2 separate regions of the Homo sapiens genome follow, and region 1 is linked to region 2. The links come from fine-mapping of genetic effects on plasma protein levels. A gene starts in region 2. The other region holds a variant in brackets. All regions are shown on one strand. Distances are from middle to middle.

Evidence for each region. A credible set is the group of variants that fine-mapping cannot tell apart. PIP is the chance, under the fine-mapping model, that this variant and not a neighbour inherited with it causes the effect. Protein levels are from antibody-based Olink assays in UK Biobank. Linkage for the fine-mapping came from a reference panel and not from the study's own genotypes, which makes the PIPs less certain.
Region 1: its variant is the best candidate, but not a certain one, in a credible set for the plasma level of the LXN protein (UK Biobank, PIP 0.73).

What each region holds. Positions count from the first base shown.
Region 1 is chr3:158,138,763-158,155,748 of GRCh38, forward strand. All of the region lies in intron 3 of RSRC1 (arginine and serine rich coiled-coil 1), which reads left to right. Among named protein-coding and RNA genes, the nearest start is that of RSRC1, 37 kb to the left of the region's middle. The variant T/A (reference allele first, on the strand shown) is at 7,824.
Region 2 is chr3:158,667,683-158,675,682 of GRCh38, forward strand. LXN (latexin) reads right to left here and starts at 4,966. Exons shown (of 6, transcript NM_020169.4): 1 at 4,668-4,966; 2 at 3,275-3,337; 3 at 1,751-1,928; 4 at 1,314-1,450. The coding sequence starts at 4,796. All of the region lies in intron 13 of GFM1 (G elongation factor mitochondrial 1), which reads left to right. RefSeq lists enhancers at 4,183-4,775, 4,290-4,349, 4,776-5,368, 4,790-4,839, 5,150-5,339.

The DNA.
Region 1 (16,986 bases), 520 kb before region 2:
TAAGTTAAAATTATTTTCCCCAAGTCATTCCTGTGAAATTGCAGAATTGTAGAATCTTGCCAAAAAATTAATAATGATTACTTAAAATATTTAAGTAGTTTAAAAGTAGGTAAACTGTTGTGTGTTTTATGGTGGGGTTGATTTTAAGTAAATAATTCCTTAATTATTCTCTTTACTTTCATTTTGTTTAGTCTATGTTTCACTCATTGTTTGGTGAGGAAGGGTCTAGAGTATTTATAAATCTGTTTCTTAAAAGATCATCATATTTGTTCTGTTTTCTAAAAACACTGCTTAATATTTGATGACATTTTCTTCTAGTACTTACTATAATTTTTTGAGAATGAATATTTTATTTTGGCCGGACACGGTAGCTCACACCTGTAATCCCAGCACTTTGGGAGGCTCAGGCAGGTGGATCATCTGATGTCAGGAGTTCGAGACCAGCCTGGCCAACATGGTGAAACCCTGTCTCTACTAAAAATACAAAAATTAGCTGGGCCTGGTGACGGGTGCCTGTAATCCCAGCTACTCAGGAGGCTAAGGCAGGGCAGGAGAATCACTTGAACCTGGGCGGTGGAGGTTGCAGTGAGCTGAGATCGCGCCACTGCACTCCAGTCCGGGCAACAGAGCAAGACTTAGTCTGGAAAAAAAAAAATTTTATTTTAATAAGCATGTTTATCTTGTGGGTGCTGCAAGCCTACAACTACATCAGGAAGTGCAGATAGTACCATACGAAACTGCATATTAAATTGTATGTTCCTGATGGTGGTGAACTTCAGTAACTTCTTGTGTGTGTTTAATACTTAGAATAAACTGCATTCACAGAGACGTGAAATTAATAGCTAATGATGCTTTTTACTGAATCCCATTAGTCTTTTTTTTTTTTTTTGAGATGGAGCCTCGCTCTTTCGCCCAGGCTGGAGTGCAGTAGCATGATCTCGGCTTACTGCAACCTCCGCCTCCCAGGCTCAAGTGATTCTCTTTCCTCAGCCTCCCGAGTAGCTGAGATGACAGGCGTGTGCCACCACGCCCAGCTAATTTCTGTATTTTTAGTAGAGATGATGGTTTCCCCATGTTGGCCAGGCTGGTCTTGAACTGGTCTCAAGTAATCTGCCCGCCTTGGCCTCCCAAAGTGCTTGGATTTACAGGCTTGAGCCACCATGCTGGGCCTGAATATCCAATTAGTATTTTTTTTCTTTTTAAAATAAATATGGGAAGGACATTTTGCATTCTAATCTTTCTTCCAAAGATTTGTGTTGAAATACATGGTAAATTTTTTCCTCACAGGATTATTGTGAGAAGAAGTTACGAAATAACCTATTAGCATCCTCTACTCTATAAATTAATTTCTTCTCCAAACTTGAGATTTTGGGGTTTTCACTGGTTCTGTTATTTGTGAAATAATTTGTGTTCACCCTCTGTCACTACCTCTTGCCTTTGGAATCTGTGCATTTTGAGTCAGTTACCTTTCAGCATTATTTTCAGGCTGTAGATTTAAAAGTTTTATAGTTCACTTTCATACGGGAGGCCCCCAGCCCTTACCTTCCTAAAAATTTTATTTTCCTTACATGGATTGTCAGGCTCTTGTTAAGAAATGGTTTTATATAAAATAGACTTAGGTAGTATTTTGTTTTCTGTTTCCGATATGCACTCTGCTAATGGCCACTATTACCATTGGCCTTTCTGACTGTAACAGCACATTGGACATGTTACTGTTCAGGAAACAGTATATAATGACTCCCAGATCTCTTTCCAGAGCTCTCTTATTTTATGAGTGTAATAATCCCTTCTCATTTATGAGTTTGCCTTATTTGGAATTCAGATCTAATGTAAATTTACTTCTGTACTGTATATGTTTTTCAGAACCTCTGCTGGACATCTGAGTCACTTGTTTCTACTTTTGTTCTTCTGCCAATTTCCTCTTAGGTGATTGGTCACATATATACTAAGTATCATGAAAATGTATTATATTTTATCATTGTGCTACGTGTACTACCATGTGGTATTTGTAGCCTTTGTGATATTGGGCAAGAAAAGATTAAAAAGAAACATTGTTTATGCTGTTAGAGATATTACTGCCCAGGTAAATGTCTAGTAGTGTTATATAAAGGAAAAGACTCTTCCTGCTAGAGAGGATTTAAAATGACTCTCCTGTAATCAAGCTTGAGGAATATTGACTATGGAAGCAAAGCTCTCAGGCACCAGAGAGCTGTAGTATCACGGAGCATTTTTATTAATTTATAAAACTGGTAACTAACATTTTGCCTCAAATGCTTTTTAAAAATCAAAGCTTTTTATAGGAATTAATAGGTATGGATGTTTTTAAAGTCCCTATTTTGAGAAAATGTCTAAGCAAAGTCTAAGAATGGACCTTCAGATGAGGTGTGAATGAATTATAGCCAATAATGAAGTGTAAAGAGACTTTCAAAAGAAGTCCACAGCTTCTATTCCATGCTTTATCCAAAGGATGGAGAAAATTCCAGTTTTTTTGGATCATGGCAGGAAAATCTGGTTGCTGGTTGATTCTTAACCTTTCTTGGGTCACATCAGGTATAGTGTGATGTCAAAGGGTGAATCTGATGAGAAGTATGGATCATCTTTACGTAAAATTTCATATATTTACATGCATAATTTTGCATGTTCTTTAACAGGATTCACAGAAGTCCTAAAACTCCATGGACCTCCTGGTTAAGGACACATTTATGCTAATGTCAGAAATATTCAAGCAGCTTTTAGAATTAAACTTAAATGACTATGCAAGTGTAAATATCTATGAGCTAAGGTAGGAGGCAGGTCCTTCCCAGTAACTAACTACATCCTTTCCTTCTTATTTTAGCCCCATGTATTTACCTATTTCATCTTAAGTTCTAATACTACTTAAGAGTGTAGCTTATTACCAGTTTAGGGTAGAGAAATACCATTGGTAGCTATTCAGTGTCTTCTTTGTTCCCCGCATTTCATTTTAGGGAATATAAAGCATTTGTGAACCATTATAGATTGTTTTGCAATCTCATTAAAAGATTAGGTTATGAGTTCTTTATCTAAGATTTCTCGGCCAGGCGTGGTGGCTCATGCCTGTAATCCCAGCACTTTGGGAGGCCGATATGGGCGGATCACTTGAGCTCAGGAGTTCGAGACCAGCCTGGCCAATATGGTGAAACCCCGTCTCTACTAAAAATACAATAATTAGCCGGGCGTGGTGGTGCACGCCTGTAGTCCCAGCTACTCTGGAGGCTGAGGCAGGAGAATCGCTTGAACCGAGGAGGCAGAGGTTGCAGTGAGCCAAGAGTGTGCCACTGCACTCCAGCCTGGGCAACAGAGCGAGACTCCGTCTCAAAAAAGAAAGAAAGAAAGAAAGAAAGATTTCTCCTACCATGAGGATTTTTAAGAACTTAATCATCATGATTTGAAAGTTTTATTATCCATTAAATCTATTATATTATGCTTACCTTCATTGTAGATTTTTGTTTCTTTATATATATCTCCCTAGTTTTTCTAATTGTTGATCTTTGTTAGTATTGACATTTCTCATCATCTTCATATTAGAAGATTTCAGTATTGTTTCTTGTTCTAGATAACTTATAAAAATATTAAGTGGGTTGATCCTGTAGCCATCTTGGAATGGTTCATTGTGGAGTACTTTTGGAGTAGTTTATTTTTCGTACCAACGGTTAGTCCATTCTTGCATCACTTAAAAAGGAATACCTGAGACTGAGTAGTATAGAGAAAAGAGGTTTAGTTTAGTTGGCTCACAGTTCTGCAGGGTAGATATGATGCATAGTGCCAACACCTGCTTCTAGTGAGGGCCTCAGGAAGTTTATAAACGTGGTGAAAGGTGAAGGGGGAGCCAGCACATCACATGGTGAGAGTGGGAGCAAGAGAGAGTAGGAAAAGTGTCACACCCTTTTAAACAAACCAGATCTCCGTAGAACTCACTATCTTGAGGACAGCACCATGCCGTTCATGCCGTTCATGAGAGATCCACCCTGATGACCCATACACCTCCCACCAGGGTCCACCTCCAACACTGGGGATTATATTTCAACATGAGATTTGGAGGGATGAAGAAAATGCCAGTTTTTTCAAGTGCCTCTCTCTCCCTCACTTGTGTCGTAGGCTTCCCTTAAGACAGCGATCAAGTCTTACTAATTTTGTATCATCAGTTCCTAGCATGGTGGTACCTAACATTGTATTTCAGCATCCTAATAGTAGATTCAGTAGATTGAATGAATGATTGACTTCTACATTTCCAATACAGGTATTTAAAAAAGTAATCTACTTGAGGCCTTTGTTAAGGAGGCTTTTTGAAAGTCTAACCTTTGTTTGATTATCTCTACCTCCAGAAGAAGAGTTGTGTGCATCGTCAGGTATATGCTAGACCAGTTCAAGTCTAACACTTATTCCCAGGATGTTAGTTTCTAAAATCCTGGTTGATTGTTTGAAATCTTGGAGGGAACCTTCAGAAAAATATTAATAATATACTTTTAGGTTTTGAGATAAAATCTTTGAAAGGGATTCAGGCAGGCTTTAAAATTACTGATCAGAGATGGCCTTTCCACTTTTAAAGAAAAGATTGAAGGGAATGGTACTATCTGAAAGAGTAATGCATTGAATATCTGACCTTAAGTATTTGTTTTCCCCTAGGAGATAGCATGATGTGGTTCTTTTAATGCCACTTCAAGAATATGTATATCAAAGTTAAATAGTAGGGACATTACTTATTTTTTTAAATGAAAAGTATTTTGGAATTCACTTTTTACTCAATTGTTTAAATTCTTAGAAATCAAGGATTGTATATGACTAGGTTCATGTCTATCAATAAAACAATAGCTTATAAAATTTTTTTAGGCAATAGTGATTGTTATGTTACTAACATAGTATTCTCCAAATTTTTTAGCAGTCATGATTTCTGAACTTTGAGTGGAAATGAAAAACAAAAACAAAAAACAAACCTTGAATTAGGGGTAATAAAGCAGGAAGGAAGCTGGTAGAAAAGCCTTCTGTATCTTCAAGCAATATCCCACCAAGAGGATATTACCAAGCTATAATTGACAACTTTGGGGAATTAAACTTCATATGGCAATGCCAAAGGCTCTAGTAATCATTAATGGTAAATGTCTGCTACTATGTTGGCTTTTATTATTACTAGCTGTAGAAAAAGCTAAAAATATGACTGAATTGGTGTTGTTACACTTTGAACATCCTCTATATTATTTCCTGGTATTGTTTTTAAAAGTACTTTTTAGTGTTTCCCTTTACTGATGCTTTGTAAAGTCCATCAAAGGACATTAAATACATAGATTTTATTTTTAAATTGTAAGGGATTGTAAGTAGAATAAACACCTTCATTTCTTTCAGAAATAGAAATTTTTTTTAAATTATTTTATTATACTTTAAGTTTTAGGGTACATGTGCACAACGTGCAGGTTTGTTACATATGTATACTTGTGCCATGTTGGTGTGCTGCACCCATTAACTCGTCATTTACATTAGCTGTATCTCCTAATGCTATCCCTCCCCCCTCCTCCCACCCCTCAACAGTCCCCGGTGTGTGATGTTCCCCTTCCTGTGTCCAAGTGTTCTCATTGTTCAATTCCCACCTGTGAGTGAGAACATGCAGTGTTTGGTTTTTTGTCCTTGCGATAGTTTGCTGAGAATGATGGTTTCCAGCTTCATCCATGTCCCTACAAAGGACATGAACTCATCATTTTTTACGGCTGCATAGTATTCCATGGTGTATATGTGCCACGTTTTCTTAATCCAGTCTATCACTGATGGACATTTGGGTTGGTTCCAAGTCTTTGCTATTGTGAATAGTGCCGCAGTAAACATACATGTGCATGTGTCTTTATAGCAGCATGATTTATAATCCTTTGGATATATACCCAGTAATGGGATTGCTGGGTCAAATGGTATTTCTAGTTCTAGATCCCTGAAGAATCGCCACACTGACTTCCACAATGGTTGAACTAGTTTACAGTCCCCCCAACAGTGTAAAAGTGTTCCTATTTCTCCACATCCTCTCCGGCACCTGTTGTTTCCTGACTTTCTAATGATCGCCATTCTTACTGGTGTGAGATGGTATCTCATTGAGGTTTTGATTTGCCTTTCTCTGATGGCCAGTGATGATGAGCATTTTTTCTTGTGTCTGTTGGCTGAATAAATGTCTTCTTTTGAGAAGTGTCTGTTCATATCCTTTGCCCACTTGTTGATGGGGTTGTTTTTTTCTTGTAAATTTGTTTGAGTTCTTTGTAGATTCTGGATATTAGCCCTTTGTCAGATGAGTAGATTGCAAACATTTTCTCCCATTCTGTAGGTTGCCTGTTCACTCTGATGGTAGTTTCTTTTGCTGTGCAGAAGCTCTTGAGTTTAATTAGATCCCATTTGTCAATTTTGGCTTTTGTTGCCATTGCTTTTGGTGTTTTAGACATGAAGTCCTTGCCCATGCCTAAGTCCTGAATGGTATTGCCTAGGTTTTCTTCTAGGGTTTTTCTGGTTTTAGATCTAAGGTTTAAGTCTTTAATCCATCTTGAATTAATTTTTGTATAAGGTGTAAGGAAGGGATCCAGTTTCAGCTTTCTACATATGGCTAGCCAGTTTTCCCAGCACCATTTGTTATATAGGGAATCCTTTCCCCATTTCTTGTTTTTGTCAGGTTTGTCAAAGATCAGATAGTTGTAGATATGTGGTATTATTTCTGAGGGCTCTGTTCTGTTCCATTGGGCTATATCTCTGTTTTGGTAGCAGTACCATGCTGTTTTGGTTACTGTAACCTTGTAGTATAGTTTGAAGTCAGGTAGCATGATGCCTCCAGCTTTATTCTTTTGGCTTAGGATTGACTTGGCAATGCGGGCTCTTTTTTGGTTCCATATGAACTTTAAAGTAGTTTTTTTCAATTCTGTGAAGAAAGTCATTGGCAGCTTGATGGGGATGGCATTGAATCTATAAATTACCTTGGGCAGTATGGCCATTTTCACGATATTGCTTCTTCCTATCCATGAACATGGAATGTTCTTCCATTTGTTTGTATCCTCTTTTATTTCGTTGAGCAGTGATTTGTAGCTCTCCTTGAAGAGGTCCTTCACATCCCTTGTAAGTTGGATTCCTAGGTATTTTATTCTCTTTGAAGCAATTGTGAATGGGAGTTCACTCATGTGGCTCTCTGTTTGTCTGTTATTGGTGTATAAGAATGCTTGTGATGTTTGCACATTGATTTTGTATCCTGAGACTTTGCTGAAGTTGCTTATCAGCTTAAGGAGATTTTGGGCTGAGATGATGGGGTTTTCTGGATATACAATCATGTCATCTGCAAACAGGGAGAATTTGACTTCTCTTTTCCTAATTGAATACCCTTTATTCCTTTCTCCTGCCTGATTGCCCTGGTCAGAACTTCCAACACTATGTTGAATAGGAGTGGTGAGAGAGGGCCTCCCTGTCTTGTGCCAGTTTTCAAAGGGAATGCTTCCAGTTCTTGCCCATTCAGTATGATATTGGCTGTGGGTTTGTCATTAATAGCTCTTATTATTTTGAGATACGTCCCATCAATATCTAATTTATTGAGAGTTTTTAGCATGAAGGGCTGTTGAATTTTGTCGAAGGCCTTTTCTGCATCTATTGAGATAATCATGTGGTTTTTGTCATTGGTTCTGTTTATATGCTGGATTACGTTTATTGATTTGCGTATGTTGAACCAGCCTTGCATCCCAGGGATGAAGCCTACTTGATCATGGTGGATAAGCTTTTTGATGTGCTGCTGGGTTCGGTTTGCCAGTATTTTATTGAGGATTTTTGTGTCAATGTACATCAGGGATATAGGTCTAAAA[T/A]TCTCTTTTTTTGTTGTGTCTCTGCCAGGCTTTGGTATCAGGATGATGCTGGCCTCATAAAATGAGTTAGGCAGGATTCCCTCTTTTTCTATTGATTGGAATAGTTTCAGAAGGAATGGTACCAGCTCCTCCTTGTACCTCTGGTAGAATTCAGCTGTGAATCCATCTGGTCCTGGACTGTTTTTGGTTGGTAAGCTATTAATTATTGCCTCAATTTCAGAGCCTGTTATTGGTCTATTCAGAGATTTAGCTTCTTCCTGGTTTAGTCTTGGGAGGGTGTATGTGTCGAGGAATTTATCCACAGAAATAGAAATATTTCTAGCTAAGATTGGCTTTTTTATTAAGAAAATTTCAAACATACTCAAGAGAAGAAATACAATATATACACAGTACCTAGATTGAACAGTTACCAAGATTTTCCCCATGGCTGCTTGTGCTGCTGCTGTTGCTGGTGGTAGTGCTGCTGCCTCCCCCTCCCTCTCCATCTTCTTCCTTTTCTTTCTTCTGCTTTTCTGCCTTTTTTTTTTTTTTTTTTTTTTTTTTTGCTGATGTATTTCAAAGCAAAATGGGACACTGTGTTATTTTACAAATGTGTACTTCACTTTAAATCTCTACCCGCTAAAAGGAAATTTTCTTATATCACATAATGCCATTATTATTTTTTTCCATGTGTGAGACAGCATCTTGCTCTGTCACCCAGGTTTGAATGCAGTGGTGCAGTCACAGCTCACTGCAACCTTGACCACCTGGGCTCAATTGATCCTCTCATCTCAACCTCCTGAGTAGCTGGGACTACAATTCCATCATTATTTTGATGTTTTGGTACTCATCTTCTGGCCATCAACTCATGTTTTTGTATTTACCTATCTCCACATTTAAGCCATTGTCATACTTCAGGAAATCTATGTTCCATATCTTTAATAAATTTTCTTTTTTTTTTATTTTTCAAAAAACCTAACTTTAAATTTATCTTTGACCTCAAAGTAGCAGTTTTCATTTTTTTGTAACCTAGAAGAAAACAGAAAATAGATTATTTTTTCATGTGGTTAAGTCATGTACAATAATCAGCCTCCAAAAACAAATTTAAAAAGTATTTCCTGAATGGTATCCCAGTTTCCTACTACATTATTGGTTTGTTCAAATTTTTTTCCAAATTCAAAAGTGTACGTTTTAGAAGTATACATTTAGTTGAACAATAGGAGAAATTCTCATATTATAATCTGGCTGTGTAGGGAATCATACTAATTCTGTTTATGTAGTCTAGCAGTGCTTCTCAAATTATCTGTGGTAAAGGACTTTTTTTAAACTCTATATTTTCAATCCATTGCAGACTAATATTTTTAAAAATGCAATAAAAATGTTATAGTTGTGTCCAATAACTATAAAATTTTCTAAACTCTTATTCTTAATTTCTTTATCCCATCGTGAACTGTACTAGTTTGTGGACTAGCACTGGTCCGTGGAACAACTTGAATAGCTTTGAGATATTGTTACTATTAAACGTGGTACAGGTAATTGATGTATACTTACCTATTATCTGGGATTATAAACCCCAGGAACTTTTTTAAAAAGAGTAAATGATATGCTTCCTATGTATTTCCCTTTATCTGTCCCCTTTGTAGCTCTTCTTGTTTGGTGCATGTAAGACTATTGGTAAACATGTATCAATAATTGTATGGGGTCATTGGAATGTTCAGTTGGGTTGGAGAAGCAATTTGATCATTCTCCTCATAAAATGTGCAAGATCCAAATTTGTTCTTAAAAGGTGTGTGTGTGTGTGCGTGTGTGTGTGTGTGTGTATGCGGCACATGAGGTGTAACTGGAAGCCTTAGACATGACTCAGAGAAACAGTACAGTAAGATATCAATAGTGTTAGATTAGGAGTCACAGGACCTGGATTTCAATCCCTTTTTCATGACTTAGAACCATGTATTTTGACTTCTCTCTGGGCTTGTTTATTCATCTGTAAATTGGGGTTACTAACTACTTTGCCAAGTTTTGAATGTCATAAACTCATCTTTTAATCAGTTGTTTATTCTCTAGGAGCCCTTAGCAACAAGGTGTTTGTGAGTTGATTCTGCTGAGGGAAGAGTTAAGAAAGAAAAGCAAAAAATAAAAAATAAAAAAAGACGGTATTTCATTCTAGTTCTGCAGAACTGGATTGCCTCAGCTACTTTATACATTTGTATACGAATATATACTTTTTTTTTTTTTTGAGATGGAGTTTCACTCTTATTGCCCAGGCTAGAGTGCAATGGCGCGATCTCGGCTCACTGCAGCCTCCACCTCCCAGGTTCAAGTGAGTCTCCTACCTCAGCCTCCCGAGTAGCTGAGATTACAGGCACATGCCGCCACGCCTGGCTAATTTTTGTACTTTTAATAGAGACGGGGTTTCACCATGTTGGTCAGGCTGGTCTCGAACTCCTGACCTCAGGTGATCCACCCACCTCAGCCTTCCAAAGTGCTGGGATTACAGGCGTGAGCCACTGCGCCCAGTCACAAATGTATGCTTTTATGTATTTGCTGTACTTTCGGTTTACTACTTTATAGCTTCTTTACCTACTACTGAGTACAGTTTATCTTTTCTTTATAGTTTCTTTTTACTCTTAAGTGTTTATAGTTGAGCATACTGAATGATCATCAAAGCTCCTTTGATATTTCTATTTTAGCTTTAGTTCTTTCTTCTAACTGCATCATTTTCTCAGTATATCCCACTTTACATTCCTGAGTGAGGGAATCTGATTGACTCAACTAATAATTCTTATATGGGATGAGCTATATCAAGGGTTGCTGGCCAGCTGTGGACTGCCTGCCTTAAGATCAGGTATTCCCATCTGGTTTGGTCACGCGTGACTAGGCTATATCTTGGTTGTAGAGCTTGATAGGGGATGTGGGAATGGCATGCTTGTTGCAGATGCGATGGTCTAAGTGAACAGACTATAAAAGGAAATGAAATTCTTAAAGGTGAATACATGCACATTCACTTATTCGTATTTGAGGGTAAAATATATTTGGAGGGAAGAGGGTAAATTATTTGAGAAAATTAGGTATAGGTTCAACATAGTGAACATGATGCTATAGGTATTCAGATTTCCTTAAACATTATACCTATTCCAACTCTGGTTGAAACCAACCTTTCTTAGATTGTAAAACCCATCAGGATCAAAGACCAAGGGGGCATGGCTATCAAGTAACTACCATGTCTATTTATTCCTAATACAGCACTTTGAAAAATCATGTTCCTATTGTTCTGGCAACCTCAAGGGAACTCTGAAAGCACTCAACTGAGTGACAGCATAACCCTGTAACACAATTTTGTTTTTCAAGTTCAGTAACTTTTAGGAAATGTTTTATTCTCATTAAAATGCACTGAAGATAAAGAGGATTTCTGTGGTGTTTATCTTTAATATTCTACATCTCTGTTAACATTTTATTTTCAAATTAAAAGCCTGTTTTAAGGGTCTTCTCTTATGTAAACTTTTTTGTTCCAAAAGGTTTTTGGTTAATTTTATCATTCATTGTAGAAAAAGCAGGGAAAAGTTGTAAAGGACCAAGTTGTAATGCTGAATTGCTCTTGCCAACTGCTAGTGCTGTTTAAAGGATATGATAGATTAAAGGCTGAAAGTTTTTAATTGAATCATAACTGTTAGACTTGCCAGTTATTTTAGACATCCTTTTAATTAAGGTGGGTCCATTTATTGCACCAGTATAAGATTATGTTTGTTATTTGCCTTTGTCCCCATAGCATAAAACCAAAGAAAAGGGTTGGATTTACTTTGTATTTGGGGGAAATCACAAAGCTGAGTATTTCTGACTTGAACACAGTTTCTAAAAATGGTGAACATTATTTGGAACAGCAAAGACTATAAGAAATTGAAATGTTCTAAATATAGTAATATTATTTGCTAATTGAAATGAAGATCTTCATTTAATAAGCTGTCTGGTTGTGTTTTTTTCCATTTCACACAATATTTATTGAGCTTATATTAATATTATGTGTTAGGGACAGTAGTAGGTCTTGATATCAATTAGGATGATATGTAAGAGACTATAAGAGAGGGTTGTTCCTTGGCTTAGCTTGGTAGTTGGAGTGGGAAAGCATTTTGGGAAGTATTTTGGAGCTAGAATTGATCTTTAATCTGTGGAGTTTTGGAAATCTGTGGAGGTGCTTCCGGGACTGCCATGAGTTTTTCTTTTGTTTGGGAGCGAGGGGTGCTTTAACTGGAACAGATCTATATCTAATTTTCTTGTATGTTAGGGTTCTGTGTAAGATATTATTTGGGCATAGGATTCTTTGTAAGGAATTCATCTTCTTTCTCTTTTAAATTCCTGGTAACTTCATAACCTATACCAGTCAGATTTGCCATTACTTCAGTGAGGTTATTTATGTACATCTCTAACTAAATTATATATTCCCTATGAGTATTTTACTTGATATTGCCCATATACCTTATATTTATCCTTTGAATGTGTAGGGGAGAAAAAATATCTTTTTCTCACGCATTGCCAGGTGCATGGCGGAGGCCCCTGCAACAAAAGACAGATTAACAAGAGAGAAGCATACAGATTTATTTACTATAATAAATAAAGTGACACAGGAGCCTTCATAAGGAAATGAAGACATGAAGAAAGGGGTAAATCTGTGTATATTTTATGCTGGGCTTGATGAGGAAGTGGATAATCGTGAAGCATGATTGGATAAAAAAGTGTGATCTAATGTTAGTCAGCTGGGGGGAATTTAGCAAGGCCTGTTTGTTCAGATTCTACTCTGTGACTTTGTGTCTTCAAAGATTAGGATGTTTCTTTCTTTTGGGGATATGGAGGGCACCTCTTCAGTGAGGATCTTGCGACTTGCTTCCTGACTAGGTCAGAAAGCTTTTGTAGTGTTCATGACCTACTTCAGGGGAGAAGGGGAAGAGGGAGAACAGAGGCTGCCTTTCCAGCTTCTTTGTTTTTCCCAGATATGTTCAGCTTAAAATGTTTTGGGGGAGTGTGTCCTGCCCAAGTACATATGTCCTGAATGCCATCAAATAAATGCCAACTAGGTGGTAGGTCCTGTGCTGCGCGGTGTGAATGCAGAACCAGTATTCTTAAAATCTAGTGAGAAAACATATATGAACATGATTATGCTTCTGATATGTAAATGCTACCCTTTTAGGCATGCAAAAAGTTCTGGGAGGACACAGTGTCATTATATGTAGTCAGTAAATACTGTACAGTAAATACTGTACAAGTATTGCTCAATGAATGAATGTTAATTAAAATATACTAGGGTAGTATAAGAAACCTCACAAAAGTCCTTGGCATTATGATTTAACTATGTAACATATATTTAATATTGTAGAGTAAAATGAAACTTGTTAGGTTCTTTTTAAGTGTGATAGATAAGTTAGAGCCTTTGATTATGGCTTGAGGTATTAAATCTCTGTCTAGTGTATTTGTATATTTAATTTTCTGTACTTATAAAAATTAAAAATCATATCTTATGGGCAAAATGTTTTTTTTTTTCAGATATTGAATAATATAGGAGACGAGTATAAAGTAGGAGTTGGAAGACCTGGTTTCTCTGGACTCTGTTTCTCTTATTAGCTGTTTGACCTTAGGCAAATAATTGAACTTAGCTGAACTTCAGTTTTAGGGAATCATAATATTAAATAGTGAGCTCCTTGAGGACAGTGTCTGTGCCGTATTGATTTTTGCTAGGGTGACCAACCATCTTGGCTTGCCGGGGACTTTGTTTTAGCACTGAAAGTTCCATGTCCCAAGAAACTCTTCAGTCCTGGGCCAAGCAGGATGTTAGTCATTCCAGTAGTATCACTAGTGGCTAGCTCTTGGCTGGCACTTAGTAACTGTTCAGTAAGTGACTGGAATTAAATGTCTCCTCTGTCTTTTTCACAGAATTGATGTAAAGATCATATTATATTTTGTGAAAGTATTTTGAAAATAATAAAAGCTGTACCAATAAAGTTGATATTGTTCTTCCCATCAGTATTCTCTTGGAATGAATTCATCTCAGAATTTGTGTAGGAGTTAATTTGGTATATAAATGTTTGATTACTCAATGTTTCCAGTTCGTGTCTGTTGCCTAAAGTGAGATACATGTGAGTACATATTATCTTCTAAATTTATTTCTTCTTCCCAGAAGTAAATGAGATGTGAATTAAAAATTGATCCTGTAGTCTTGTAGTTTCACGTTTAATAATATGACTTTTAGTTTTAACTGAGGAGCTGATTTCACATTTGAATGAGTATTTGGCTTCTGTTGTATTTGATTATTGTACATGTTTTATCTTAGGCTTAAAAGCCATTTTATAGGACATCTTTTAATTATGATCTTAGTAGATCTAATAACCCTAACACTTGGAAAGTTTAGAATAATAAATGTAAAGATGCCTAAGTGGGCACTATATGTATCTAGGAACTAAATGCTCTGTAAATTTCTCAGGTATAGTAAAGTCCTGAGGAAAGCAGGTGGAGTTTTCCAGACAACCTACCTCTGGGCAACCCTTTCTGTCCTTTTTAAAGCAACTTTCTCCCTATACCTTCTGTATTTGTATTGACTGAGCAAATTCTCAGTCACATTTGCTTATTTGCTACTAACTATGTAGCTTAAATCTTGTGTCAGTTACTTAAGTGCCTCTTCTAGAGATTCTCTTAACCATCAAAGTGATCTGCAACTCTTTCTCTTTGGAGACACTTGAGGATGGGTATGGAACTCTCTTCTTGTAGAGTTGCCAGTAGAGGCAATTCCCACCCCCCTATTTATTGGTTATTTTCTGCTTCTTTTCTTGAACTATTTTAAAATTTTTCATTCTTAAATAAAACATCAGGGAAACTCCACAGTCTCTTGCTAGCCACAATGTTTCTGCTGTAACTAAAGAATGACAATGTGGCATGGTATTGTGTTGCAGGGTAATGCTGTAACTTAATAAGTGATTTTAAGAGTTTCCTTGAGGTTGCCATAAAGCTAGAAGACATGATTTCAGAAAGCACTGTATTAAGGATAAATAGATGGTGGAGTTACTTGGTAGTCATGCCCCGTTGGTCTTTGATCTTGTTGGATCTTACAATCTAAGAAAGGTTGAGTTTGACCAGCATCTGAATAGGTGTGATGTTTAAGGAAAGCCGAATACCTCTAGCATAATTATGTTCACTGTGTCGAACCTATACTGTAAAGTTTGTGAACCAAGATTGTCTTTTTGGATTGAGGAGCTTGTTTTTGAGAGTCTTGATTGTTATTGGTATATAAAACTTCTCTTTGTCTGTTGCTCATGTGGTATGTGATCTTAGGTAGAGTAAATTTATATGATGAGAAATCCCAGGATAATTATGAGACTGGGATACATGTATGCAAAATGTGAAAATATAGCTTTCCATTCTTCTTTAGATATTTCCCCAATAAAACTCCAAATTTAAAACAACCTGAATCCTTGACTGGACAGCTATACCTCAGAGATATTGCAGGTTTGTATCCACACCACCACAAGAAGGTGAATATTGCAATAAAGCAAGTCATATGAATTTTTTTGTTTCCCAGTGCATATAGAAGTTATGTTTACTCTATACCATAGTCTGTTAAGTATGTAATAGCATTGTGTTTAAAAAACAATGTACATACCTTAATTTAAAAATACCTTATTGCTTAAAAATGCTAATGATCATTTGAGCCTTCGGTGAGTCATAATCTTTTTGCTGGTGAGGGTCTTGCCTTGATGTTGATGGCTGCCCACTGATCATGGTGGCGGTTGCTGAAGGTTGGGGTGGCGGTGGCAATTTAAAATAAGACAACAATAAAGTTTGCTACATTGATTGACCCTTTTTTAAATGAAAGATTTCTCTGTAGCAATTGATGCTGTTGTCTAGTATTTTACCGATCATAGAACTTTTTTTTTTTTTTGAGAGGGAGTCTCACTCTGTCACCTAGTCTGGAGTGCAGTGGTGTGATCTCGGCTCACTGCAACCTCTGCCTCCCGGGTTCAAGCAATTCTCCTGTCTCAGCCTCCTGAGTAGCTGGGACTACAGGCTCATGCCACCATGCCCAGCTAATTTTTGTATTTTTAGTAGAGACAGGTTTTCACCATGTTGGCCAGGATGGTCTCGATCTCTTGACCTCATGATCCGCCCACCTCTGCCTTCCAAAGTGCTCGATTACAGGCGTGAGCCACTGCGCCCGGCCAGAACTTCTTTCAAAATTAGAGTCAGTCTTCTCAAACCCTGCTGCTGCTTTATCAACTAAGTTTATGTAACATTTAAATCCTTTGCCGTGATTTCAGCAGTATTTACAGCATCTTCACCAGCAGTGGATTCTATCTCAAGAAACCACTTTTTTGCTCATCCATAAGAAGCAACTCTTCATTTGTTCACATTTGATCATGAAATTGAATCCATTCAGTCACATCTTCAGGCTCCACTTCTAATTCTGTTTTTTGTTTTGTTTTGTTTTGTTATTGCCACCACACCTGCAATGACTTCCTCCACTGAAGTCTTCTTCCTCACAGTCACACATAAGGGTCTTGGAGTCAACTTCTTCCATACTCCTGTTAATTTTGCTATTTTGACTTCCTCCTGTGAATCAGAAATGTTCTTAATGGCATCTAGAATGGTGAATTTTTTCCAGAAGGTTTTCGATTTACTTTGCCCAGATTCATCAGAGAAGTCACTATCTATGGCAGCTATAGCCTTACAAAATGTATTTCTTAAATAGTAACACTTGAAAGTCAAAATTACTCCTTGATTCAGGGACTACAGAATGAATGTGGTGTTAGCAGACATGGAAACAATATTAATCTCCTTGTACATCTCCATCAGAGCTCTTGGGTGACTAGATACATTGTCAGTGAACTATATTTTATTTTATTTTATATTTTTAGACAGGGTCTCACTTTGTCACCCAGGCTCTAGGGCAGTGGCATGATCTCGGCTCCCTGCAGCCTCTACCTCTCAGGCTGAAGTGATCCCACCTCACCCTCTCAAGTAGGTGGGACTACAGGAATGCACCACCAAGCCTAGCTACTTTTTTTTTTTTTTTTGTATTTTTTGTAGAGATTGGGTTTCACCATGTTGCCCAAGCTGATCTCAAACTACTGAGCTCAAGCAGTCTGCCCACCTTGACCTCCCAAAGTGCTAGGATTACAGGCATGAGCCACCACACCCAGCCATTATT
Region 2 (8,000 bases):
GAGGCTGAGGTGGGAGGACCGCCTGAGCCTGGGAGATTGAGGCTGCAGCGAGCCATGATCACACTAATGCACTCCAGCCTGGGCAACAGAGTGAAACCCTGTCTCAAAAACAGGCAAACAAACAAAAAAACCAGAACACCTGAGAATAGTAAAATGTAGTGAGTGTAGTTGTGTGATTGTGTAATTAAAGCTTTTTTCTGTACTGTACAGTAGAGGGAAAAAACAGATAGTTTCAGTATGGCATGACTATAGTAATTTGAACACAAAACTTAGATTGCTAAGGGAAATAATCTGTATTAAGCTGAGCACAAAAGCTAAATGTTGGATTATAACTCAAGACTTCACTCTTCTGAAAGCACAGCTTTGCTTGTGACTGCCATAAAAAGTGGCCCTGAGGATCTCTATAGAGCAGATTAAAGGTGAGGAGAGTCATTACAATTGTCCCTTAGTATCCATGGAGGATTGGTTCCAAGATTCCCCTCAGATACCAAAATGCACGGATGCCCAAGTCTCTGACATAAAACAGTGTAGTATTTGCGTATAACCTATGCATACCTTCTCATATACTTTAAATCATCTCTAGATTACTTATAATACCAAATACAATCTAAATGTTATATAAATAGTTGTTATATTACTTAGGGAATCATGACGAGAAAAAAATCTGTGCATGTTCAGTACAGATGCTACCATCCATTTTTTTCCCCCAAATATTTTTGATTCTCGGTTGTTTGTATCCATAGATGCAGAACCCATGGAGAGGCCTGACTGTATATTGTACACCTGGGATTCTGTCTTGCTGCTACTAATAAAACTCTCTCAACCTTTTTGTTCTAGAAGAGGGTTTGAGGAAAGTATCATAGTTAAATCTGACTTGACTAACCCGAAAGATTAAGAGCTATGATTACCGTGATGCTTTTTGAAAGTGCAGTCTAGATACTGTGTATTAACAGGAAGTGTTTCACTGAAATCCTTGGCTTTGCCTTGCTTTTGTTATGCTTCCTAGTCTCTATGTTCCCAGAGCATGCAACTAACAAAGCACAGTTATTAGGCAAGTTTGAGGCAAAGGAGGCCTGTGGTTTGCATCTCTCAGCCAAATCAAACAACTTTTTAGACCAGTTACTGTTGCTTTGGACTCTTCCTACAATTCTTCACCTTCTCTAATCTTGATTGTACCTGACCTCCCCTTTGAAATCCCAGGTTTGCTATTAAATACAAAATGACTATAGGAATACTGTTAATCCAATTATGAATTACAATACTTTCGATAAATATTAACCCCATTAATAGTGTATTTTATAGAAACTACTTACCACTTGCTTGACAGTTTGAATTTTTACCATTTTATACCATGTGTCTTCAGTAGAATTTTGCCATATTATATAACCACAGGCAACCCAGGCTAAATGTAGAACGAGCGTCATTTCTGGAGATACATTTCCAAAATTGTCTGGTAGGAGACACATTTATATGATAATCATATATATAGTATTAACCTTTTAAAACAAAATCTAAATTCTAAATCATGTCTTAGTTTCCTTCGAATGTTGTGCAAAAAATAATTTAATTAAGCTATGGATCTATAAAATTTCTGAGGCCTCTTTTTTGTTGGATTGGATTAGAAATGAGTATTTTTGCAAAAGCCTGTAAGTTTCTAACATACTTAGCAACTAACAATTTTAAGCACAGATAATTGAGATTGATTTTAAGTTTGAATCAAACAAATGGTTTTCATGCCATATTTATATACCTGGAATATTTTGTGCTTCTAGCGGTTCCTTCATGGACTTAAGTCTTTGATAAAATGTGTTGTCTTCTTCATCTGGATTCTTTCCAGTTTCTCCTTCAAATGTGAAGTTGACTTCTGGTGCAGTTTCTTGTCCCGTTGAAGGGTAAAGTACTTCAGCTGTGCAGTTCACCTTAACTTGCTGTTTGAAATTTAGCAAAATATCCTTATATACAGAAGGCTATTCATTATTAATTATCATCTTTGAGATATGATTTAAAGCATAGGCTCCTAATGGTGTTGTTTTAGACTAGACTTCAAAGTGCTTGTTTTCAGAGGTATCTAATTGGGCCTGGCCTATTAAATTCTAGACTTATCATGTGAATACCCTAAAATAGATAACTTACTTTATAAATGATATGGTGTCATAATCTTATGAATTCTAGTCTTAAAACTTTCAGTATATTTCAGTATTAATGGGGTGTCCATTTGCAAGGCCAGATTTTAATCTGACTTTATATACCAACTCAAGACTGGTTACTTTTAAAGTTTTTCCATTACTCTTACTCTTTGCTCCTGAAATAACAAAGTTTTTGAAATGCAGATGCAGCAGTCTGTGTCTGGATATAAAATTAGAAGATTATGGCATTGGGTTATGCTTTGTAAAGATGGCTGTCTAGCAGCTCAGATGCCTTTTAATGAATCTCTTTATGAATTATGCTCAACAGAAAGGCAAGCTTTTTAAAATTTCAAGATGGCTGTGGTACAGATTGCAGTTCCTTTCTTTTAAGTTTGTCTCATTAATAATTTGACAGTTGTGTATAATCTTTAAAATTTCCCTTCCCCATTACTGAAAGATCTTCATCTGAATGGTGGTATCAGCTGGCATTCTATTGCTTCTGAATATCTAAGAGCACGTTCTTTCTCTAAAAACCCAGTGAAAAATAGAATGAGAAAAGCAGACGTTAAGAAGATGATTGATTGGGGAATAAATTACTTCACTCATTTATATTAGGCATAAGTTCAGACTGCCCTAAGAGTATGTAACTTCTTAAGAAATTCATTTGAACTGAAGTGTATAGTCTTTTTTTGTGTAGTTTGGTAGAAATAATTCATATACCTAGGAATACCCAAAGATAGTAAAGAACTGATCCTTGTAAACTTTGCCCATATGGTCAGTGTTTTTCAGAGGCAGGTATTTCACAACAACTTTTTAAAAAGAGGTAAAACTAATCAATCTTACAGATTTGATCAGCAAAGATGATCTGGAATATTTAGAATTAAATTTGTTTAATAAGAACATTTTGGCTGGGCTTGGTAGCTCATGCTTGTAATCCTAGCACTTTGGGAGGCAGAGGCAGGAGGATCACAAAAATTAGCCAGGTGTAGTGGCATGCACCTGTGGTCCCAGCTATTTGGGGAGGCTGAGGTGGGAAGATGGCCTGAGCCCGGGAAGTTGAGGCTGCAGTGAGCCATGTTCTGCCACTGCACTTCAGCCTGGGTGATAGAGTGAGACCCTGTCTCAAAGAAAAAAGAAATTTAACTTACTTTTTGTATAATTTCTTCAACAGCAAATTTAAGGTGATACTTATGTCCTCTTCCTGGAATATCCTAAAATTAAGAAAATGTAGTGGAGACAAGAAAATATTATAACAACATTATACTTGCATTGTTAGAAGTATGCATCTCATTTGGTTGGAGGGGCTGGCTGAAGGGGAATGGTGAAAGCCTTAGGTCTTGAAAAAGGCATGTCACCATGAATGTAACATCTAATTTAGCAAGTCCCCTATCAAGTTTATTTTGGATGAAAACAAAAGAGTAGGATAAAAGCATACAAATTGGGCACAATTCACTTTCAATCATCAAAAGACTTTATTTAACCCCTGGATCTGTGATCTTAAAGTCTCTACATAAGAAAGTTTGAAACAGCGTTTAATTCTAAAGATGACAATATCACCTTTGAAAAGATTTTTTCATAAAGCTCAGTGTACCCTCCAAATAATGTTCAATGAATGTGAATTTCATTTTGAGGCAGATTACTGCAAAGCAATTGGAGACTTAATACAATTAAGTATTGTTTTTACTTATACATTAGTGAAACTGCAAAATGATTAACAAATTATATAAGACTAAGAAATGGTATTTCACTTTTAAATCAAGATACAGATTGAAAATTTATACCTAATTCTGTTATCTGGTACAGTTTCAAAATAAGATCTACTGTGTCACCTCTAAAAGACTGTTAGCAGTTAAAATTCTGTCAGATAAATAAGGGATAATCTCAAATCCAGTAGATTTTCGTAAAATGAAAACAAACCTCGTTAGTGATTGCTGAGGCCTTAAACATTTAATTCAAGCCTTTAGCAGAGGGTGCACATCATTTAAGGCAGTCATGTGGTAGCGGTGTTTGGGTGGCTAAAGGCCAGCGTCAGCCCACAGTGCTTTTATTCTTTGACTTTGATTGTCAGTTTCTCTTGCTGTTTGTTTCCCCCTTCATTTTGGTCAAAGGGTCTGATAAGGATTTGTCTTAAAATGTAGGCAATAGAGTCTTGGAAGATGGGAGCTTTTGTTGGTCCAGATCAGAGTAGCAGATGAGAAACGTGGCAGCCTTAGTAGTCTTTTGAATGGTTTCTACAGTTTACACTTAAGGAAAGTGCTGCCCCTTACCTAGAGCGTGTTCCCGTTTTCTTGTAACTGTGTGCGTAAAAACTTTGTCTCTGCCTTAAGGTGAAAACAGTCCCGGGCTGTCTCCAGAGACTGGAGTATAGACATTCCCCCAGAAACCTTAATATCTCAAGACCAGATACCAGCAGTGTGTCCTAAAACAGAAGGTGGGTAGGGGGTGGCACGGAGTGTCTGCACCCAAAGGCTGAGACCGCGGGTGAGTGGAGGGAGCGCAATCCTGAAGCCTCTGCTGTCCACCACCCCCTGCTAAACTCACCTCCATGCTGGCTTGTTTGACCTTCTGCACCTCAAACACCCTGTGCGGGGTCCCCTGCTGGTAGTTGATGTAGTTCTGTGCCACCAAGGCCGCCCTGGAGGCTGGGTAGTTGGTCGGCGGGATTTCCATTCCGGATGAGCAGTGACTTCAGGGCTTGGGCTACTCTGGCTTAACGGGACCAGTAGCAGAGCGCCGCCCGTCCTGCTTGCTGCTGGGTCCGGTTGCCGAGGCGGAAAAGTCGCAAGCTCCTTCAGTCAGTCTTCTTCCTCAGCTCCTTCCGACTCCGGAAGCTGCTGTTTGGGCCCAGGCTCCCTGCATCCGAGAGCCCTGGGCTGACTGCTTCTGAGGCCCCGCCCCACTACTGCCTGCAGCGGGCTTCCTTACTCCGCCTGCTGGTTCCTACTGGAGGAGAGGCCAGCATGCTTGTCAGGCACCAGCAGGTGGAGGTGTGGGGAGGGAGTCAGTGGGCTAGGTTCGCTGGGATTGCATCTTTCGTTTCATTAACCTTTATAGAAGTGCAGGGTGGGGCTTTCGCTGATATAGGACATCTCTGAAGACTCTAGTTTCCTGTCCATGGGAAAAAAGTCTGGTTGCTTCGCTTGCATACTGGAGCACAACTTCCTTATACACCGCATGCAGCGTCCCTGGCAGGGCAAGGTACACAGTACTCCAGGTAGTGATTCGATTCCTTCATTTCCCTTCCCCTTATGAGAGTCCAGGAAGAGGCTTGCTCATCCTCAGCTTTTTGTGGGTTTGGACCAGTTCTGCCCAAATCAAAGTATGAGAATCTGCAAACTATAGTATTAAATTGGGAGATTATGTAATTTGGATCAGGAGAAATAAAAAAATGCACCTGTACCCCTCTCCTTTACTAATCTTAAAATGATAAGTTTTGATGTAACGCCATGCTTCCAACTTGAGTCATTTTGAATATTTTACTTCAAGGATTAAAATAAACTTAAAAACTGAACTTATACAAAGCACTCTCTCTGGTATGTGGTCTACCTCATTGCAATGGGCCTATAAACCTGACTTTGTAGAAGTACAGGTTTATCCTTGGTGGTCTTAGGTTAATTGGGCTAGGATAACTTGGAGATTCTACCAAAGTTTGGCCAAGGTCTTCGCTGCCTGGATTGAGACCTTTTTTTCTTTTCTTTTCTTTTTTTTTTTTTTTTTTTTGAGATGGAATTTCACTCTTGTTGCCTAGGCTGGAGTGCAATGGTGCTATCTCGGCTCACTGCAACGTCCGCCTCCTGGGTTCAAGCAGTTCTCCTGCCTCAGCCTCCAGAGTAGCTGGGATTACAGGTGCCCACCACAATGCCCGGCTAGTTTTTTGTATTTTTAGTAGAGACGGGTTTAGGCTAGGCTGGTCTCAAACTCCTGACCTCAGGTGATCCACCCACCTTAGCCTCCCAAAGTGCTGGGATTACAGGCATAAGCCACCATGCCTGGCCAGGACCTTTAACTTGGTAGTAATGCACACACCCAAGACTCTTGAGGTGTATCTCTTTCTGATTATGTAGATTCTGCAGTAAATCTGGATTCTGGACTTTGGCCTCAGTTTCATGCTTATTATTGTCTCCTGGGATTTGGGGGTTCTGATTGACTTTGCCTTTAAATACCATCTGTCTGCTTGCCCATCATCTTGTATCAAATGTCAATGAAACTTTTCTCAGTCTTGTCCGTGTATGAGAAATTTGCTTTGCGAGACACTGTCTTTCACACATGACCTTTTTTTTTTTTTTTTTGGAGACAGAGTTTCGCTCTGTTGCCTAGGCTGCAGTGCAGTGGCGTGATCTCGGCTCACTGCAACCTCCACCTCCCAGGTTCAAGCATTTCTCCTGCCTCAGCCTCCCTAGTATCTGGGACTACAGGTGCACTTCACCACACCTGGCTAATTTTTTTGTATTTTAGTAGAGATGGGGTTTCACCATGTTGAGTTCAGGCAATCCTCCCTCCTCTGCCTCCCAAAGTGTTAGGATTACAGGCATGAGCCACCGTGCCTGGCCTCTCCACGTTTCTTAGTTCAGCATTTGTTAAACCCTGACCCACCCATGGCAATATTTTTGCAAATACAGAATATCAGCCAATTTTCGATGGGGTTGTCAGATACGAACTTACACTGTCTCCTGGGATAAATTTACCAAAGAATTGGTGAAATTTGGGGAACTTTGACATGAAGAAGACTGTTCATTTGAGAGACACTTTAGAAGAACACCAGAAATAAAAAAATAAGACTTTCGGAGAACAGTATTTGTCTTATTTGTCTAAGAGCATTTTAAGTAGAAGACTGCCCATATTTTATTTCCATACTTCAAGGTTTTTTATTAATAACATGGCTTATATTTAAGCTTTTTCCTCTCTCCTTGAAAAGAAAAGATAATTAGCGTTTTACAGTGATAATTTCATATTTGTCTAAAACTGGCTGTAGCTCACCTTTTCCTGTTTCTCATTTTCTTTCATTAAAAATTTGAAAGATGATTCATGAGACTAAGTCATTCTGTCATTATATGTGCAGTCCAGGAATATCTAGTCCAAATAAACAGCCAAAAATGTCTAAGAAAAAAATCATTGTGCTTTAAAAAATGTGTAAAAATTAATGTGGTCAAATGAACTTAAATAGCCTTTATTATTATGTTTATAAGGAGCAAGTTTACGGCCGGGAGCAGTGGCTCACGCCTGTAATCCCAGCACTTTGGGAGGCCAACGCAGGTGGGTCACGAGGTCAAGAGTTCAAGACCAGCCTGGCCAATATGGTGAAACCCCGTCTCTACTTAAAATACAAAAATTAGCCGGGCGTGGCGGCGGGCGCCTGTAATCCCAGCTACTCGGGAGGCTGAGGCAGGGAACTGCTTGAACCCAGGAGGCGGAGGTTGCAGTGAGTGGAGATCATGCCACTGCACTCCAGCCTGGGTGACAGAGTGAGACTCCATCTCAAAAAAAAAAAAAAAAAAAAAAAAACAAGTTTTCAAGATAAAAGAGGAGCTCTTAAACATGATTTAATGATTTTTGAATATAAAGTTTATAAATTATATTTTTAAAAATGTATAAAATATTTCTGATTAATAGATGAATTTGGGTGAGCTGTAACAAAATAATATTTATTTAAAGTTGATTATATGTCTTCCAGGTTTTATTACATAATGATAAAATATTCCAAGTTCATATAAAACTGAATTTGATCTTTTCATGATCTAAACTTTCTAAATTTTATATATTGATCAAATGGGCCAAACAAGTTACTGATTCAATCAGTTGTATAAGATTACAAAATATAAAATGGTGTTTAAATAAAATTTTAATACAGATGTCTTTTAAAGGAGTTTTAATCTT